2 linked regions of the Homo sapiens genome follow. The protein of the gene in region 2 interacts with the protein of the main gene of each other region in a biochemical or structural test. Each region holds a gene or a part of one and is shown on either strand. Other genes may lie near its edges. The genes, in order: BTRC and LPIN1.

What was found.
Region 1: the proteins of LPIN1 (region 2) and BTRC form a complex in vitro, tested with the Homo sapiens proteins (one study listed by BioGRID).

Annotation. Positions count from the first base shown.
Region 1 is NC_000010.11:101,360,369-101,364,186, reverse strand, and holds part of BTRC (F-box/WD repeat-containing protein 1A), read right to left. Parts: intron 1-3,818. UniProt on the Homo sapiens protein: Substrate recognition component of a SCF (SKP1-CUL1-F-box protein) E3 ubiquitin-protein ligase complex which mediates the ubiquitination and subsequent proteasomal degradation of target proteins. Recognizes and binds to phosphorylated target proteins.
Region 2 is NC_000002.12:11,819,477-11,823,294, reverse strand, and holds part of LPIN1 (phosphatidate phosphatase LPIN1), read right to left. Parts: intron 3,812-3,818; coding exon 3,697-3,811; exon of another isoform or gene 3,545-3,696; intron 2,885-3,544; coding exon 2,781-2,884; intron 1-2,780. UniProt on the Homo sapiens protein: Acts as a magnesium-dependent phosphatidate phosphatase enzyme which catalyzes the conversion of phosphatidic acid to diacylglycerol during triglyceride, phosphatidylcholine and phosphatidylethanolamine biosynthesis and therefore controls the metabolism of fatty acids at different levels.

The sequences.
Region 1 (3,818 bases), on a different chromosome or scaffold from region 2:
AGAGTGTCAACAATAGAGAGCAGAAAGAAGAAAGCACAATAGTTGTCATAATAAGCATCTTACCATTCTTCTCTAAATCAACTGTACTAGATCACTGCAGTAGATTACTGTCACTATAGTATTGTGCAAGTTACTCCCTGCCCTGCTTGACTTTGGGCTTTTGACTTTGAGTAAGCCAAGTTTAGATCATCCACTACCCAGCAAACCCACAATTTCAAGAGAATAAATACCTATCACTGTAAGATGCTGGTATTTTGTGATTCTAAACGCCAATAGCTAACTGAAATGATACTGTGACAACAGTAGAGTCTTACTGCACTTCATCGGTAATTTAAATAATCAGGAAACCTATATGTAAATCTGGACAGTAATTCTTCCACTCTGGCCACCGCTTGACTGCCTACCTCAGAGAGATATCTGTCAAAATCTATCTATTCATCAAGATCTAATATGAAGCTTTCTTCTACAAAGCTGCTAAAGAGCTCTTCAGTTAAAACGAACTTCCCGGCCAGGCACAGTGGCTCACACCTGTAATCCCAGCACTACTAAAAAATACAAAACTTAGCCGGGCGTGGTGGTGCACACCTGTAGTCCCAGCTACTCGGGAGGCTGAGGCAGGAGAATCACTTGAACCCGGGAGGTGGAGGTGGCAGTGAGCTGAGATTGCGCTACTGCACTCCAGCCTGGGTGACAGAGTAAGACTCCATCTCAAAAAAAAGAAAAAACAAAAACAAAAACAAAAACGAACTTCCCCTCCCTTAAATTCTATAGCACTTTGTGCTTCTATTTTAGCATTTACCAAAGTGTGCCTTAACAGATATTAAGGAAACATGCCACCATATCCCACAGTTTTCCTGCTCTTCAAAGAGGAAGTATACTGCACGTAAGTAAGGCTCTCAAGTCAGACTGCCTGGATTTAATCTCAGGATACCTGCTAGCATGACTTTGAGCAAGTTACTTAACCTCTCTGGAATAATTTTCCTTAAATGAGAAATGGGGATAATAATAATACTGAATCTATCTCACAGGATTACTGGGAGGATTAAATGAAATAATATATATAAAGAGCTTAGAACAGTATATTTAGAACAGCAAATAGTACATGCTAAATAATTATAGTCAAACCTCCATAGCTGCAGGGAACTGGTTCCAGGATCCTCCCATCGGATACCAAAATCCACAGATACTCAAAAGTCTCTTATAGTGCCTTAAACGGCACATAACCTACACACATCCTCCCATATATTTCAAATCATCTCTAGATTACATATAATAATGCAATGTAAATGTTATGTAAGTAGTTGTTATACGTATTGTTTTTAATTCCCACTTTTATTGTTATATTGTTATTTTTTATTGTGGTCTCTTTTTCTGAATATTTTCAATCAATGGTTGAATTAGCAGATATGGAACCCACAAATATGAGGGACCAGCTGTTAGCTGTTAGCTATTCGTGGCTGACTGTATTAACAAAACACAAAAAATTTCTTCTGGCCGGGCGTGGTGGCTCACACCTGTAATCCCAGCACTTTGGGAGGCAGAGGCGGGCGGATCACCTAAGGTCGGGAGTTCAAGACCAGCCTGACCAACATGGAAAAACTCCGTCTCTACTAAAAATACAAAATTAGCTGGGTGTGGTGCCGCATGCCTGTAATCCCAGCTACTCGGGAGGCTGAGGCAGGAGAATAGCTTGAACCCGGGAGGCGGAGGTTGCTGTGAGCCGAGATTGTGCCATTGCACCCCAACCTGGGCAACAAGAGCGAAACTCCATCTCAAAAAAAAAAAAATTTCTTGCACCTCTGCATTCTCCTGTAATTGACAGCATCAGGTCAGGTCACAAGCCTAGGAGCAGGAAGGCAAAATCAGATACCCTGAAAGGAAAGCCAAACTACAGAAAGGAGCAAGACTTTAGAAAGAAATTCCAACTCAAGGCCGGGCACGGTGGCTCACAGCTGTAATCCCAGCACTTTGGGAGGCCAAGGCGGGCGAATCACAAGGAGGAGATCGAGACTGTCCTGGCCAACATGGTGAAACCCCATCCCTACTAAAAACACAAAAATGAGCTGGGTGTGGTGGTACGTGCCTGTAATCCCAGCTACTCGGGAGGCTGAGGCAGGAAAATCATTTGAACCAGGGAGTCGGGGGTTGCAGTGAGCTGAGATCATGCCACTGCACTCCAGTCTGGCGACAGAGTGAGACTCCGTCTCAAGGGGGAAGAAAAAAAAATATCCAACTCAGAAGGTTCATCTTAGGCAGGCAGAAATTCTCTCTCCCTTAGCTCTAGGGCTTTTGCTCCCTTGCTTCCCAATCCCCACCTTGGCCACATATAAAGGTAATCCAGGAACTAGCAGGTAGTGCCTCAGAGAACAATCATATTCTTAGTTCAACATTAATCTCAGTTATCTTTTTCACTTGTTTATCTCTGAGTCTTCTGTACAATGTTATAGCTGGTCTTATAGCTCTATCTCAATCAGGCTATGGGAAACTAAAAGGAATAAGCCTCAGACTATTCTAATTATCCAGAAATTCTCCCCAAGTACAGCAGAAATATTGTGGAACACTAGTTGAAACTGTTAAGATCCAGTGGACCCTTCCCATAGAGATTTCTTCCCCCCTCCATTGCCTATTTTAGAATGCTGAGATTGACTTATTACGGAAAGAGAAAGTTTTATTTTTATTGACTAAGTTGTTAAACTTTGGTAAATATTTTCTATTTCATCCTCAATGGATTCTCACTATACACATTTAGAAAGGACTTCTGTGCTATATTAAAATATTGCTGGCCAGGTGCGGTGGCACATGCCTGTAATCCCAGCACTTAGGGAGGCTGAGGCGGTTGGATCACAAGGTCAGGAGATCGAGACCATCCTGGCTAACACGGTGAAACCCCATCTCTACTAAAAATACAAAAAATTAGCCAGGTGTGGTGACACGTGCCTGTAATCCCAGCTATTTGGGAGGCTGAGGCAGGAGAACTGTTTGAACCCAGGAAGCTGAGGTTGCAGTGAGCTGAGATCGCACCACTGCACTCCAGCTTGGGCAATAGAGCGAGACTCCGTCTCAAAAAAAAAAAATTGCTAAAGCTGGGCATGGTGGCTCAAGCCTGTAATCCCAGCAATTTGGAAGGCTGATGCAGGAGAATAACTTGAGGCCAGGAGTTCCAGACCAGCCTGGGCAACACAGCAAGACCCCATCTCTACAAAAAAATAAAAATATAGCCAGGTGTGGTGGCACAAACCTGTAGTCCCAGCTACTCAGGAGGCTGAGGCAGAGGCATTGCTTCAGCCCAGGAGTTTGAGGCTGCAGGGAGCTCAGCCTACTGATGGCAGAGCTGCGCCCAAATAAAATAAAATACTGCTAGAAAGTAGGTGAGATTTAAAAAGTATTTTAGGCTGCGAGTGGTGGCACGCACCTGTAGTCCCAGCTACTGGAGAGGCCGAGGCACAAAGATCACTTAACCCTAGCCTGAGTTCAAGGCCAACCTGGCAACAGAGCAAGCAAGATCCCATCTCTAGAGGCCAGACGCGGTAGCTAATGCCTATAATCCCAGCACTTTGGGAGGCCGAGGCGGTCGGATCACCTGAGGTCAGGAGTTCAAGAATAGCCTGGCCAACATGGTGAAACCCCGTCTACAAAAATACAAAAATTAGTCAGGGATGATGGCAGGTGCCTGTAATCCCAGCTACTTAGGAGGCTGAGACAGGAGAATTGCCTGAACCTGGGAAGCGGAGGTTGCAGTGAGTTGAGATCGTGCCATTGCACTCCAGCCTGGGTGACAGAGCAAGACTCCATCTCAAAAAAAAAAAAAAAAAAAAAGC
Region 2 (3,818 bases):
CACTGGAACCAAACCCACTCTCACACTCCCTGAGCGGCCAGGCCGAGTTCCATCTGCGCGCCTCCCCCAGACCGACCTCCACACACAGTGCTCCTCCCAAGCAGGCAGAGCTTACGCACAGACACTCGCAAACGAAAGGGAAAAAGAACTGAGCTGCTCCCGCTGTGTGGCCCCAGCCTCTGAAGACATTTCAGATGACTGTCCCAGTTCTGAATGACAAGCATCTACTTGGCTCAGAAATAGCTATACCAAGTTCAGCGCCAGAGAAATGTGAGCTTCCTGGGGGAGGAGATTTACTCTCTCACAGGAACAACCCCGCCTCCAGTCCAGGTGTAAAATGTCAACATCCCCTGGCAATGAGTAAAGTCTGCAGAGCTCCACCCTAGGCCAAGCCATGGGCGAGGTGTGCATTTTAACCCTAGAGCCTCAGTCAATGCAATGACCGCAGAGGCCACCTAGCCAAACCCTCTCAGATGCTGGAGTCCCTCTTTCCATGCGTGCATGGCAAGACCTGCCACTTTCCCATTCCTGGACAGCGTCTCATTGGTTCAAAGTTCTTTTTGATCCTGATATGGTTTGGCTGTGTCCCCACCCAAATCTCATCTTGAATTCCCACGTGTTGTGGGAGGGACTCAGTGGAAGTTAACTGAATCATGGAGGCAGGTCTTTCCCATGCTGTCCCTGTGATAAAGTCGCATGAGATCTGATGGTTTTATAAGGGGGAGTTTCCCTGCACGAGCTCTCTTTCTGCCTGCTGCCATCCATGTAAGACATGACTTGATCCTCCTTGCCTCCTTTGACCATGATTGTGAGGTCTCCCCTTTTTTTTTTAATTTTTTTTTTTTTAGATGGAGTCTCACTCTGTCACCCAGGCTGGAGGGCAGTGGCATGATCTTGGCTCACTGCAACCTCCGTCTCCTGGGTTCAAGTGATTCTTCTGCCTTAGCCTTCCAAGTAGTTGGATTACAGGTGCAAGCTGCCATGCCTGGCTAATTTTTTTTTTTTTTTTTTTTTTTTGGCATTTCTAGTAGAGACAGGGTTTCACCATGTTGGTCAGGCTGGTCTTGAACTCCTGACCTCAGGTGATCCACCCACCTCGGCCTCCCAAAGTGCTGGGATTATAGGCATGAGCCATCGTGCCCAGCCTAAATCCTTTCTCCTGTATAAATTACCCAGCCTTGGGTCCATGTCTTTATTAACAGCATGAAAACAGACTATAACACAGATCCTAAATAGAAACCCAGTAGGTCCTCTCCAGCCTGGGGAATGAGAGGGGAGTGGGAACGAGACATTGTCACAGTCAGCCACTTAGAACAGTGGAGGTGGCAGAAACCGCAAGGAAGGGTTAAGAAAGGAATCAAGTTCCTGCTGTTTTTCTGCCAATCAGGAAGCAGCCTGGCACTGCCTCGCCTTCTGCAGGAGGGAACAGGGCCTTGGCTCCAGCCTCCCCTCTCTCTGCACAAACCTTGAGGACTGCTTGGGTACTGGCATGACTGCAGGGTGAGAGGAGTCTTGTGGGGCAGCCCCAGGACTCCTGTTAGCCTAGAACTGCCCTATTGACACTCAGTTAGAATCCAACTAGTTTAAGGACCATCTTGAAAGTAAAAATCTGCCCTAGAGAGAACTTATCTCTCTATCTAAAACCACAGAAGCTACATGGAGAAAACCAATCCTTAGGAATCTCCTAGAACCAAACTCCCCCAGTCTAACTCCTCCAGATAAAGAGGAACCCCTCGGGCTATCTGGGGCCACTAAGGCCAGAGGCTCTTTTGTTTTTTGAGACAGAGTCTAGCTCTGTCGCCCAGGCTGGAGTGCAATGGCACGATCTGGGCTCACAGCAACCTCTGCCTCCCGAGTTCAAGTGATTCTCCTGTCTCAGCCTCCTGAGTAGCTGGGATTACAGGCATGCACCACCACACCTGGCTAATTTTTCTATTTTTAGGAGAGACGGGGTTTCTCCATGTTGGTCAGGCTGGTCTCGAACTCCTGACCTCAGGTGATCCACCCACCTCAGCCTCCCAAAGTGCTGGGATTACAGGCATGAGCCACCGTGCCTGGCCTGCCAGAGGCTCTTTTCCAGGTCTGCACAGACCAGACCAGAAGAGGTGTAGTCTCTGAAATGGACAAGGCAGGAAGACAAGGGTCGGCCTGGGCTGATGTCACCCAGTGGGCCAACCTCCCAACAACATGGAATGAGGAAATGCTCTCCATCCTAATAAGTTAGGAACCCGAGGGGGACAGGATAAAGTCAAGAGTGATTCTAAGCACACAAGGATGCCTCATTAGAAAGAGTAATCCCATTTAGCCCACCGACTCAGAAAAACTGGGCTTTGACCAAAAATATGAAGGGAATTCTTAACAATTACACAGCAATGTCTCTGGTAAGAAACATTTGGTATGTGAAGAGATATACAGTTCCTCATCTTTAAATATAACTTCACATATTTCAGTTTGGTTATATTTCTCATTCACATTCTAGGCTTTCAAACCTAACTTGGCAAATCTAAACTACTAGTTTTCAAATTCATTCAATTCCATTCTGTAGCAGACTCTAACCACGAGTTTAAATTTTAGACCCAGAAGGGATCTGATTTAATTCCAGTTGTCTAAAAATTATGTTTTGGACAAAATACAAGGAGTTAAAATACATTTTTTCATTATAAGAATTACAGATTAACATATAGGCAGCAAAGGGGAAAAGGTACACCGCAAACTGGGAAGCACCGTTTTAAGATAATAGTACTGATATCATAATCACATAAAATGTGTACAATACTCACGAAGAGATGTTGGTCTTTGCATGTTCCTGTACCAGCTCTCCTTTAGGGTTGACGGTAAATATTCTATTCAAAGACACTCCTACTTGCTTGTATGAATACACATCCTATATTTGGTAAAGGTGATTTAAAGTGTTCATTAGAAAAGAGTTCATTGTAAAAACAAGTCCATGGTATTTCTGATTTGATGAGATATCAAATTTTCATTAACCAGAGCTCTACCTCAAAGTGGTGCAGTGAAAGAATATCCTTTGATGGGAAACTATTCAATTAGTTTTGCTCTCTGGGCCTCAATTCCCTCATCTGTTCAAGGACTGAGTTGAAGAAAAGACAACCTACCACGTCCCCGCAATTCTAACATTCCTTCAGGTTATTCTTTGACCCATATTCCTACTTCATGAAAATCTCTCGTAACTTTCAAAAGTAGGACTTTCTGATGGAGCAGTTAGTACCCAACTACATTCTCTAGAATACTTAGCTTTCCAGTAAATGCGGGCAATACATGCAAAATCTCAAAGCGCTTCTTTCATGATACGAGACAACACTAGACACTTAAAACGTGAGATGCTGAATTCGCCATTATGGTTAGGACTGATTTTGCGGTTCCCTTCTGGTAGAAAGAAACTAATCCGATTAAATGTTCTTGCTTTACTGCTTTAATGAGTAATTTGAAATTTGGAGTTTTAAGTCCCATATCTCAAGCTTTGACCCACCCGCCAACCTTCAAAGAACCCTGGAAGCCATAAGATAATTTGTAATCCCCTTGCCTTTAGATGTGGGCAAGTGGCTCTTCACCAGGCTACTGCTTCTGGGATGAGAATCTGACTCTACATATGGTTCTCGGATAGGGCTTTCAGATGACAGCAACCAGAAAAGGCAGTCATTTCAAGGGTTCTTCTATACCCAATCTACTACTTACAGCTGGTCGGTTTCCAAAAGCAGCATAAAAGGGTTCTGTGTTGGGGAAAAACAGGTTTTTGATGTCTGTCAAACACTGGACTTTAAACTTTTCTGGCTTCTTTTCAATCACTTCTCTGTTAA